3 separate regions of the Homo sapiens genome follow, and all the other regions are reported to be linked to region 1. Evidence: microRNA targets listed by miRTarBase, many of them from high-throughput screens and not tested one by one. Region 1 holds a microRNA gene; each other region holds the end of a gene's coding sequence.

Region 1 (4,000 bases):
AAGGATCACAGGGTTAAAGTGTGAATGCAATTGAATATTTCTCTATTTGGTGGAAAATGTTTTTGTGAATATATATTCAAGGAGCACATTTGGTGAAAGGCAGGAAAAACCGGGTTTGAAGTAATCAAGGTCAAAATGACAGGCTTTATCATCAAGCTCTGTTTGCTGTATCAATCTGAGAAATCTATTGTTTATGCAAAGGTAAAAAAGTCCAGTTTTTCTACATATTGCCAGCACAATGAAAAGGCTTGAGTAGTGGTATAACTTTTTTGGGAAACGGTTTTTAATTGCTCTATTTTATACTGGCACTTATATATTTGGGGATTTGGAGGGTCATTGAAATATATTCCTTACAAATAAATGGCAAATGGATTACTGTGGTCATCCTGGGAGATAATATACTCGCTATATCTGATTGATGTTCAAAACATTTTCAAAACCATTCTAAATCACTTGAGTCATGAGAAGACTAATCTCTGTACTTGACAGTGGTCTAATTTGTAGCCCTAAACCAGAAGATAATGTGGTTTAATTATAGTATTCATCGTTGTTTCTAAGTTAGTTTGGGCTTAAAAAAAAGTTTGGCTTTTCTAGGGATAATGGTAGCCATACATAATTTTAAGTACCTCTAGGGTACACAGAAAGAGCTGTAAGGGATTCTCAGGCATAATTAAGAGAAAGAAAACCTACCAGAAGCAGGATTGAATAGACCATGGAAGAAGACATCTTATAAACAGGAGGAATTTAAAAGCAAGAAGGCTTAACATATTTAGACCACAGGAAAATTTAATTAGAAACTAATGTCTATTATCTCCCGCGATATATTAAAAACAGACAGACAAAACAAAACAAAAAGCCAATAGAGAATCTAGAAGTAGTGGAAAAAACTAAATTTCCTGACTGGAAAAAAGTAAATTCCCAATTGCTACCTAACCACTCTTCTTTCCTCCCAATCTCATCTGACGCTGATTTTCGGTAGAAAGAAAGAATTGATGAATTCAGGCTGGGCGCGGTGGCTCATGCCTGTAATCCCAGCACTTCAGGAGGCTGAGGCAGGTAGACTGCTTGAGCTCAGGAATTCAAGACCAGCCTGGGTAACGCGGTGAAACCCCATCTCTACAAAAATTTGTTGGGGCTACTTGAGGGGCTGAGGAGGGAAGGACTGCTTGAGCCCAGGAGGTGGAGGTTGCATCAAGATCGTGCCATTGCACTCAAAAAAAGAAAAGAAAAGAAAAGAAAAGAAAAGGAATAGATGAATTTATATGCTTGATGTTAAAATCTAAATCTCTAAATGTCTCTCTTTGTCCCAATCCTTAAATATGCCTTATTCTTAAAGGTAAACCTCATGTGCACTTTATGATCCTCTTATCTACCAAGATCAGTTTTTTGTCAAGATAGGGATAGTAAACATCTTATACAATAAATGGAACATAACATAATCTAATTCCTTGGTCTATCTTATAAAACCAGATTCAGTATATATTTTTTTACTTTTTGTAGAGACAGTGTCTAGCCATGTTGCCCAGGTTGGTCTGGAACTCGTGGCCTCAAGCAGTACTCCCATCTAGGCCTCCCAGAGTGTTGAGATTACAGGTGTAAGCCATCATGCCCGGCCAAAAAAAGTGACTTAAATAATTTGCTTTTATAGTACCTAGAAATGTACAGTGGGTATTGAAGAAAAATGTGTTGAATAAAAACTTGCAATAATTTGCCACTAGTTAAGTTCCTATCGCCTTAAAAAGTACACTAATTTTTATTACTGCCTCACTTATTTGTGCTTGCATCTTCTAAACAATTCACACTTTAGAGTGACTTTAGGCATATTCCTGTCTGGAATACTGACACTTTTAGATTAGAGAACAAGTTTATTCAAAAGGGTAGTAGTAGGAAGAATAATTTCAGCTTTCCTAAAATCTTAAGAATTATCAAACTCAATTATAACTCTGGTGACCGCTGAAGAAATACTGAAGAACTAACTATAGTCAAATCTGTCCAAGTTCAGGTAGAGCATCATAATTAACCTTGATTTTTCAGATACTACCAACCCTTAAAAACCATCAGTCCCATGAAAATACAAGTCAACATATGAAAGTATAATAATTTAACTAAATCTTGATTAGACACATGCACCAAACACACTGCTACGTGGTCAGAATAAGCACTGCTAATCCGTGACAATACATGACAATATGGAGGGCTTAGGTCATTACAGAAAAGGAGAAAGTAATACATGACAGCATGTGACAATTTGTGATAATACAGGGGCTTAGGTCATTACAGAGAGAAATTAACCGTGTATTGGATAAATGAAAGAATTTTAACTTACTACCCTGAATTTTCTTGGAGACATGACTGCCTTCATAAATTGAGATTTACAGACTTTAATATCAACATATGTAAACTGATAAGGACACAATTTACCTTCACTGCCACTAGCGATGAAGTCTTCATTATGGCCTCCAAAACATGAATGAATTGTATAAAACCCTTGTGTAACACCTTGATACTTTCTTACTAAAACTCTGTCTTGCAAGTCCCATAAATGAACTCCCTGCAGGCAAAGGAGAATACAGATATTTAATCTGCCTCAACTCAAACAAATTTTAAAAAGTATCTGTAAATATCCCTTTGCCTGATGAAATATCTTCATTTTCTATTATGCAAAATACCAACATTCTGACAAATTTATGGTTGATTATACACATTTAAGGATCAATCACATGCAATCAAATTTAAGGGTAAGTAGAAAATTTTGTTAATATAAATACACTGAAAATAACAGTTAAAATAAAACTTGTACTAAGCCAAATTTTTCAGAAAATTATACTAATAAACATACCTGAGTTGCTACATTTAACAAAGCTAATCGGCCATTTTTTGAAATAGTAAAAGACATAATAGGATGATCTTCTTGTACTCTGGAACCAGAAAATAATTTGTCAAAAACAACATATTAACAGTCAAGACATTCAAATTATCAATACATAAGATGTGCTAGCTTAAGTATGACAATTTTGCCTGCAATCACTATTACATACTATACTTCAATTGAGAAGAATCTGAGTTACTGATTACTAAGTACCATGTGACCTTCAATCCAAATTACCACGCAAACCAAAACGAAAAACATAAAAACTGTGAAAAGGCAAGTTCCACTACACATTTGAATATAAATCAGGTAATTGTTGTTTAATGGAAACAAAAAATAGTTACATGTTCCTATCTGTAAGGTCCTCGAAGTTATAGCCCCGAATTCGCTGGTGTGTATCTGATGCCAGAACAGTCTTTCCATCACTCAAGCACCAAAGGCATTGCACTCTTACCCCTTCCCAGGAGTCAAGGAGATTACCATCTAAGTCCTGAGTAAGAAAAAACTACTATTAACTTCATTACTCAACAGCACTCAGAAAGCAAATAAAGAACCAAAAGACTCCCTTCACAATATCTTTTAGTAACAGGTTTTTTTTTTTTCCTGAGACTGATCTCAACCTAATTGTTCTAGAAGTGTTTTTAACCATGAAAATTTGAATATAGTTCAAATTTCATTACAACCATACTTAAGGGAAAGCAGAGAGACACTTTGTAGCTCTATCTTCCCTTCAATAACTCACCATGCATAAATAACACAAAGAAAGAAACAGTCCCTAAGTTCCAAGTAAGGTCTTACTTTTATTCAAAAACAATTTAAACGTTCCTTTAAAATTCACTATACTGGAATTTGTCCTAATATTTAGGAGTTGTGAAATGGAAAAAGATTCTAAAACATTTTACAGCTTCATACAGACTGGAGGAATCTGTTAATGACATTTTTCAAAAATTTACCAAATTTGTAATGTGCTCTACAGATCAAAGCTCTTATAGTCATTATCTCATTGAATATCCAAAGTTCTGAGAGGAACAACCCTTCCCATTTTATAAGTTAGATAATCCTGTATCTTGATGGCTTAACACAGTATAGGACAGCAAACTCAGCAGAAACATACATGATCATCTTGCACGC
Region 2 (4,356 bases), not on the chromosome of region 1:
GCTCTGTCACCCAGACTGGCATGCAGTGGCACAATCTCAGCTCACTGCAACTTCTGCCCCCCGGGTTCAAGCGGTTTTCCTGCCTCAGCCTCCCACGTAGCTGAGATTACAGGCATGGGTCACCATGCCCAGTTAATTTTTGTATTTTTAGTAGAGACAGGGTTTCACCATGTTGGCCAGGCTGGTCTCGAACTCCTGACCTCAAGTGATCCGCCTGCCTCTGCCTCCCAAAATGCTGGGATTACAGGCGTGAGCCACCATGCCCGGGCAGTAGAAACTTTTTTAAAAAGATAGTTGGATGGAGATACAGGTACTGGTTTTTTGTTTGTTTGTTTGTTTTTAAGATGAGAAATATTGAGATTCATCTCTTCTTTCCCTCAATGTAGGTCTAAATCTCAAAACATCCTCAGCACAGAGGAGGAACGAACTACTCTCTTGCCTAATGAAACCTAGTCCGATGGATCCTGGATTGATACAAGGTTGAGAAATGAATGCTCCTGGCCTTAAACATCACCGTAGGAAGGGTTTTTAAAATTTTACGCGCAAAACTCCGTGGACCCCGTGCCAGTGTCTTGGAAGTGTCAACGTGTTTTTGGATGATCCTGTATTGGGCTGTACTTACTGTGATACTGAAAAGCTGTCCTGCTGAAGCAGCTATATTTGAAATATTAAGTATGAAAGGAGTAATTAAAAACAAGCAAAACAAAACAAGACTTAGTTTTTAAATGACCAAACTTGTCCTTAAAGATGTTGTTATTAACTCGAGTTAGTTCTTATTTCCTCTGTTTATTTTTTATTCTAAGTACACTGATTCTGTGAATGTACCTTTTTTATTAACAGGGAAAGAAATGAATTAATTTGATATGCTCTAAATACATAAAGGTGCTTCAAAATATGTAGAAACATTACTATGAAATCAGTTTTTAAAAGATATACTTTCTCTTTGTCCTGAGGTTTTTCGGTCTTGTTCAAAAGGAAGAATTCTTGCCTGCCATACAGAAACTCTCTAGCACTCCCTGACCTTAAGCTTTTCTAAAAATTCTGTTTGTGTGAAAAGTACAAGAATAACAATACTTACAACTTCCATTTTTGTAACCTACGTTCACTTATGATCTGGATTTATAAACATTACTTGGTATAACGTTTTTCATTTCCTTTAATGTCTCTGTTTTTTGGCTCTACCATCTGTTTTGTTTTTGTTTTTATCTATATCTTGGTAGATGTATTTCATCCCTAGAGCAGGTCAGCCTCCTTCCCCTAATGCGAATGCTTGTTTTGTTAGGGAAGGGCTTCCTCCAACTTCGTGTGAAATTGTGATGTTGAAGTGAATAAATGTCTATTGTGTAACTCTCATGCTTCTTGGTCTATTTTCATGGTGTAGTAGCCACATTTACAGTAATTTTTTTAAAGAAGAAATGGTTTTATCTATTCATTCAAAAATATCTTTTGAATGTCTTCTCTGAGCTGACACTATGCCAGATGCTAGGGATTTGGCTGTGATCAAGATAAACACAATCTCTGCTTTTATGTAACTTATACTGGTGGAAGAGACGAACAATAAATAAATATCAGACTCTCCAATTATCTTACAGAAATGCTAAGAAGGAAAAAAAAACATGGTGATGTGATAGAGTAGTTGGCTGGGTTTGTTTAGATATGGGTGCCTAATTTGAAAAAGTCCATGGAAGTGCGACCTTTGAGTTGAGATCTAAAGGAAGAGGATGTAACCACCATTCATTCTGACAGGGGACAGTCCGTAGTATGTGCACAAGGGCTTGACATGGTCAAAGATGAGGTTTGGTCTGCTGGCTGGAGTCTAGTAAACTGGAGGCGATGCCAGAATCTGATTCACATTTCAGAAAGTCCATTCTGTCTGCATGTGGACAGTGAGTGGGGATAGGGACGGTAAAGGGAATGGAGGGGGAGCTTTGGAAGATTTGAGAGAGACAATAATGGTTTGGACCAGGGAGCTTGTGATGGAGAGAAAAGGCTCTATCTGGGAGTGGAACCAACAGAACTTGCTGATGTGGAGGGAGGAGAGGGGAATCTAGGAGGACTCCTAGGTTTTGGCTTGAGGGTGTGGGTGGATGGTGGTGACTCTTAGTGAATTGGGGAATAGGAGCAAAACGGATCCTGAAGTGGCAAAAGTTCAAGCCACCATGGGATGTCATTGCACACCACCAAAACCAAAAATATGGAAAAGGAGGACAATACCCAGGGTAGGAGAGGATGGCTTTGGAAGACTGCCTGGCATTGAGTGTCAAGACTGGATGTACATCTGTCTTGTGATCTCTTCATTTCCCTATCCCCTCAAACCTTTCACTCTTGAACCTCCAGAGGGCGATCCAATGTCTGAGGAGGACAAATGGCCTGCAATTCCCTTCCCGGAGCAGTGCCAGGACAGAGTGTGACCCTGGCCCCCTGCACCCATGTGGCATGCAGATCTGGGCCTTGATTGCCTTAAGTCATCCTGGCCCCCTCCAGGACTTTTTTGACCTTCATGTCCACCCACGCAAGGACAGCCGCCCTTCCTCAGCCCGGTGGTCTTGGATGCGGCTGAGTGCCTGCAGTCCCTGCCACTGTCACTTGGGGCCACTATTAAAGCATGAGTCTGCAGCTTGCACCTTCCTACCCACTATCTGGGCCAGCCTATTCTGTTACCAGCACAGTTGATTGTTGAGAATTCAAAGTCAACGCAAGGATTCGAGGCTCTCTGGGGAGAGAACTTCCTTCATCCCCATTCCCAACACACGGCTCTCAATACTTCCCTTGGATAGCAGTGTATTTAAAGATGCTATGTACAAAACCAAATTTACTCCTTTCTCATTTTGAAATTTTGCAAGTATTAAGATAAGTGGGCCGGGAGCAGTGGCTCACGCCTGTAACCCCAGTACTTTGGGAGGCTGAGGTGGATGGATCACGAGGCCAAGAGATCAAGACCATCTTGGTGAAACTCCATCTCTACTAAAAATACAAAAGTTAGCTGGGCATGGTGGTGTGCGCCTATAGTCCCAGCTACTTGGGAGGCTTAGGCAGGAGAATTGCTTGAACCCGGGAGAAGGAGGTTGCAGTGAGCCGAAATTGCGCCACTGCACTCCACCCTGGTGACAGAGCAAGACTCCGTCTCAAAAAAAAAAAAAAAAAAAAAAGTCACAGAAAAGTTTAAAAAATATGAGAAAAGACAGAGGAAAGAACACTTTGAACAAGAAAACCAAAAGGTAGGTCAAAACTATCAAAGGAAATCTCTGTGTATGTGTTTGTATTTTTATATATTTATAGTCTTCTAAATGTAACAAGGCTGAGCAGCTTAAAAGAACCTTTTTAATAATGAGAATATTCTATATAACTGAATGTGGAATATGTTAGTAATAAAAGGAATCTTTTATGTTAAGATCATATTGCAACCTATACATTATAATATGATACATAAATCAATCCAAAGGAAAACTAAAAAGGTTAAATACAAATCACAGATCATTTTTAAAAATTAAACTTTAAAAATTTTGAGATAATTGTTAATTCACATGCAGTTGTAAGAAATAATAGAAAAAGATCATGAGTATTCTTTCCCTGGTTTTCACCAATGATAACATCTTGCAGAACTATAGTACAATAGCACAACCAGGATACAGAACATTCCCATCGCCACATTCTTCACGTTGTCTTTTTGTAGCTACACCCACTTCCCTCCCATCTTCACTTCTGGCAGCCACTAATCTCTTCTCCATTTCTATCATCTGGTCATTTCAAGAAACGTATAAATGAAATCGTATTGTATGAAACTTTTTGGATTGGCTTTTTTCAGTCAGCATAATGCCCTTGAGTTCTATTGGCATTGTTGCATGTATCAATAGTTCAGTTCTTTAAATTGCTGAGTAGTATTCCATTGGGTGGCTTTAAGACACAATGGAATACTACTTTATTTGTTACAAATAAAGCAGCTATGAACTTTCAGAAACAGGTTTTTTGTTTGTTTGTTTGTTTGTTTTTGCCAGGGGCGAGGGTAGAGGGTGGGATATGAAGCATAAGACTTCACTTCTCTGGAATAAATGCCCAGCAATACAACTGCTGAGTTGCGTGATAATTGCATGATTAGTTTGTTTTCAACTAACTCATTTATTTTAGATAAGAAACTTGATTTTGACAATAAATATTAAATATCACGCATTAATGAAATATCTGGTCAGCCATGGTGGCTCATGCCTATAATCCCAGCACTTTGGGAGGCCGAGGTGGGCGGATCACCTGAAGTCAGGAGTTCAGGACCAGCCTGGCAAACATGGTGAAACTCCATCTCTACAAAAAAATACAAAAATTAGCCGGGCATGGTAATGCCAGCTACTCAGGAGGCTGAGG
Region 3 (4,329 bases), not on the chromosome of region 1:
TCATTAAAAACAATAAAACAAAACAAAACAAAAAAACTAACCAGTTATGATTGCAGATAAGTCTGTGCAGTAAGAGTGACAAACATTTCACGATTAAGTCATGTATAAACATGCCTTTAATTGCCACAGTTTAAAGAAAGTGAGCAGCAAATTTAGATAGTATACTAGTGTTCAACGCTGAAATCACTCAAAATATAAAGGGCATTTTTAAGGCTTTTAGCTTGCCTTCCCAATCTATGTGATAAATTAAATGGAACAAATAAAAACATATTGGATCAGAGACTCAGCTTCTATGTGTATGTTTAGAAACTGCATAGTCATGAGAGCATAAGATACATTTCTAAAACAGAATTTTTTAAAAATTCAAACATACTATAACTGAAGCACTCACCATTCTAATAAGAGAGTCTTTCTGAGGGTAAATGACCAGCATGTCTAATAATGCCATCACTGGAGGAGGGCACACAGTCTACTATAACCAGAGGACAAGGTTCCTATAAATTACATACTGAAAATGATTCACAAAACCATGAAAGAAAAAATGTAAGCAGCTGACAAAAGAACTACTGATAAACAATAAGCTACAATGGACAAATCATTTCACTCTTTAGTCTGTGGTATGAGAATGGCCAAAAATAGGTGGGGAAAAATGCCTGTATAAGTACATTCTTGGACTTTTCAAAAAAAGAAAAGAAAAGGGTTTACAGTATAATATTTCAATTATCTTACGGAAAGAAACTATCAAAATAAAACATACATGTTTGTTAAAAAAACACAAGTTCATTTTAATAAGGTCATGAACTTGAAAAATTATTTTTGAGCTACAAAAATGGGTAAGGAATAGTTTGTTCTTCAAAAGTATCTCTTTTGTTATTGGTTAATTTAATATGATTCCTTAACTAAATACCAAACCTAGGAAGTGGAGGAAACTTGTGGCCGTTAAAGCAAAGCAGCACTAGGAACATGTCCATGCTCTGAACAAAAGCACTGTGTAATGATTCCTGCCATGACTCCATAGAGAGGAATAACTACTACTCAGAAATAAGTGGTCTGTAAGAAAGAGACAGTGAACAATTACAACAAAGAAAGATAAGGCCACAATGAGTTCTGCCCTTGATCACTGAAACAGATTTAAGGTGTGAGGCAGGATTAGCTTATAAGAGAGAAGTGAGTGATTGGAGCAGATTTGAAGAAAAAAGGCGATATAGAATAAAATGCAGCCTGGGGGTGATTAAAAAGGCTTGCAGTAAGAGAAAACCGCAATAACTGATTTAACCACCTAACGTGCTTTACAAATGACCTTCCCCTTGAAAACTGAGGAAAAGGCGATTTAAAGATGTTAGGAAGAATATTTACAGTGGCATAGTCTGAGCATAGAGTGAGTGATGAAGACAGCAAAGCTGGAAAAAAAATGCTACTAATAATAATTTCTAAAAAGTCTATTAATGGAAACTTTTTCAAAACAGCCCAGGACACCAGAAAGACAATGTTCTGTAGGGAAACACTGTAGGAAGTTACAGTTTTGCATTCATAAGGTACTGTGGCTCCTGTTTTATGGGACAGTAAAAGCTTACCACAATCTAGAGGTAGTTTTTACTCTAAGAGGGATGATTGTATTACTAGACTGTGTTGTATAACATTACACACGTGGTTCCTGTACTAAATGTAGCCCAATGAGTCTGCTGCAATTTCGAAGAAACCAAACAAAGGCATAAACAAAGTTCAGGAATGAAAGCACGGTAAAACCGGCGGGGTTAGCAAGCAAGGCCAACCTACAACCCTGAATGCAACCAAATCTCAACTGAAAAGAAAAGAAACATTTTCTGAGTTAGGAGACATTTGTGGAGATGCTCAGTACTGGAAAAGAGAAAACAAACAAACAAAAAAGGCAGAGAAAAAAATGAAAACATAAGTTACATTTGCATTTTATAATCTTACAACTATCTGTTTCTAAAGTACTGTCTTCCAGCTATTTTAGTTGATCATCTAATAAAAGCATCTTATGTTTTAAGATTACAATGATGTTCTGGCTAGGCTACCCCCTCCAACCCCCCAAAAAAGTAAAGATAATAAAACATGCTTTTGCGGACATTTTCCTCATTCTACCATTAAGGGCACCATCTACCAACTGGTAGCAAATACTTCCCATATTTTTTGTCACTTGCCAACAAGGCAGAAAATACCCTGCTGAATGAAATCACTGGGAACATTCCAAGTTCAAAATAAAATGTTTAACTTACACATAATACAAGTTATGTACAAGATTAGGAGGGGGGAAAAACCTGAACAAATCCTGGAACACACCTATGTATTTACGTCATGGGAAAAGGGGAGAGAACACTTCAAATATCAACAAGTTCTGCGCCATTAACTCATTAATAGCTAAATGGCCACACCAAATTGCATGTGAATGTTAGAACCTCTCAGATAACCACAATAAGTCCATATTTTTTTTTAAAAAAAGGAAAACACAGAAATAACTACCAACAGTGTCTGAGAAGAGAGACTAAGTTAACATACATTGCATGTATTGCAGGCAAGGCAGAGGCATTTTTTTAAAGCTTTTGCACAGACTTCATATAATCTTAAAAAAAATATGCAGGCCTTTGCAAGATTTGACTTGCTGAAATCCAAACAATTTTGACTCATGAAAAGTCATAAGACTTCAGCTGAAAAAAAAGAAAAAAGTTCCAGCCTTAGACCAAAAAAAAAAAACCTGGAAGAGTATGATAGATTAAACAAGGATGGTCAGGCTTGGAACCTGAATGTATTTTAGAGCAAAAGCTCAAAGGTGGGTGGGGAAGAGAACAACCTATTTGGTAACAAGGTGTACTATAATACCGTGATATAAAAAAAGGTATGGTGAAAATGTACCTTTTACTAAAGCTTATACAATATACAAGTTCCTTGGTCCATAAAAACTATGTTAGATTTGTGTCTTCTAGTTTGTTCAACTTGTATTCCAGCCACATTATTTACTTCTTGCCCATTTAAACAAAACCAAACAAAAACCAACCAACCAACCAACAAAACAGCTGAAAAACTTGATTTCCAATATTTATACATTTTGATTTTTTTTTCTTTTTTTTTTTTTTTTTTTTTTTTTTTACTGTGGCTTCTGCATTTCAAATCAGCACTTGCAGGGAGACAACGGGGTTTTTGAATAGTATCACCTGGTATGAAAAGTTTTCCCAAGAAACCACAAACGATTGTTCATTTTTTCTCCTTTTTTGTTAACTTTTTGCCACACTCAAGTCAGTTTAAGTCCTAGCAAAAAGACGGTAGTTAGGATACCACTGTGGCTGTAGATGATGTGACACTGGTTGAATTTGTGCTGGCGTTTGTGTAACTTCCCTCGCTGTTTGTGTTTGATTCGTTAGGGGGCACCTGGCTTGAATTGGCTCGAAGGATTGCTCCTGCTGCACTGCAATGTGGCCGCGGCCCTGGTTCTGGTGTGTAGGTAAAGGTAAGGCTGGTGGAATAAATGATTCCATCATTTCGGACCAAAGTTACTGGAACCTGGACTGGTTGCCGGACCCATCTCCAACCTTCTCGGAATGCAGAAATGTCTGGGACGACACAGAGCATACTCTCTCCACACCTGAGGAGGAAATAGAAATCACTTAAAAACACTTTAAAAAGCAAAGTACATGTTAAAAATGAGACTTAACACAAGGTTGTTTAATACATTACAATCAGTGCCAGGAAAGAATCTCCTGTACCCACACCCCTCACAACCTCTGGATGATGCAAAAAGTTTTATCAAGTACCTGTACATAGTTTCAGCTTCTACATCCCCAAACCACACTCGTAAATTTGGAGTGAAATTCTGTCCTGTAAGTTCAAGCATTGCTACGTCCCCACCGCCATTCAACTGCAATTCACAGAAAATCACAACACTGAGAAAACTTTTCATTTTTCATTAAAGTACACAAATTAGATTCTCATTCAACTTTCATTTGTTTTTTTTAAAAAAGGGCAATTAAAATGTTTTTTATTACAAAGCTAGCTAAAAACATTTCAAGATAACATACAAGTTTATTTACATTTAAATTTTCTGGCAAGTACGCTCCTCCTAATTTTGTTTTTTTTTCTTTAAATCAACAAATGGTGTATATAAAAATCCCCTAATCAGACGATTGGAGAAAAATCAAAACTCCCATGAAATGAAATGATGCCAGGTCACAGCTGAGAGTAGCTGCAAAGAGCTGAAGGCCAACTTGGACTAGGCGTTCTCACCTGAAGGCTCTCTACCACAGGCACAGGAGTGACTGGGGCAAGGACAGGGCCCATTCCCTCATAAAATGTATACTCTGCCTTATCTGTGCT

What was found. Region 1 holds the annotated microRNA hsa-miR-4742-5p (UCAGGCAAAGGGAUAUUUACAGA, at 2,614-2,636, opposite strand). A microRNA usually pairs through its seed, bases 2 to 8, with sites in the 3' UTR of a target mRNA and lowers its output. Matches are read on the target gene's strand: a 7mer-m8 pairs with bases 2 to 8, a 7mer-A1 pairs with bases 2 to 7 and ends in A, and an 8mer does both.
Region 2: the mRNA of SLC18B1 is a reported target of hsa-miR-4742-5p. Seed matches in the 3' UTR shown: 7mer-m8 at 985-991.
Region 3: the mRNA of RBPJ is a reported target of hsa-miR-4742-5p. Seed matches in the 3' UTR shown: 7mer-m8 at 2,534-2,540.

The regions. Positions count from the first base shown.
Region 1 is chr1:224,395,676-224,399,675 of GRCh38, forward strand. MIR4742 (microRNA 4742) reads right to left here and starts at 2,636; the gene lies at 2,552-2,636. It overlaps WDR26 (WD repeat domain 26), which reads right to left. Exons shown (of 14, transcript NM_001379403.1): 10 at 3,214-3,359; 11 at 2,840-2,918; 12 at 2,422-2,551.
Region 2 is chr6:132,766,367-132,770,722 of GRCh38, reverse strand. SLC18B1 (solute carrier family 18 member B1) reads left to right here. Exons shown (of 14, transcript NM_052831.3): 14 at 387-1,353. The coding sequence ends at 453. Among named protein-coding and RNA genes, the nearest start is that of VNN2, 11 kb to the right of the region's middle. RefSeq lists an enhancer at 2,358-2,517.
Region 3 is chr4:26,429,964-26,434,292 of GRCh38, reverse strand. RBPJ (recombination signal binding protein for immunoglobulin kappa J region) reads right to left here. Exons shown (of 11, transcript NM_015874.6): 9 at 4,240-4,329; 10 at 3,771-3,874; 11 at 1-3,601. The coding sequence ends at 3,286. Among named protein-coding and RNA genes, the nearest start is that of CCKAR, 58 kb to the left of the region's middle.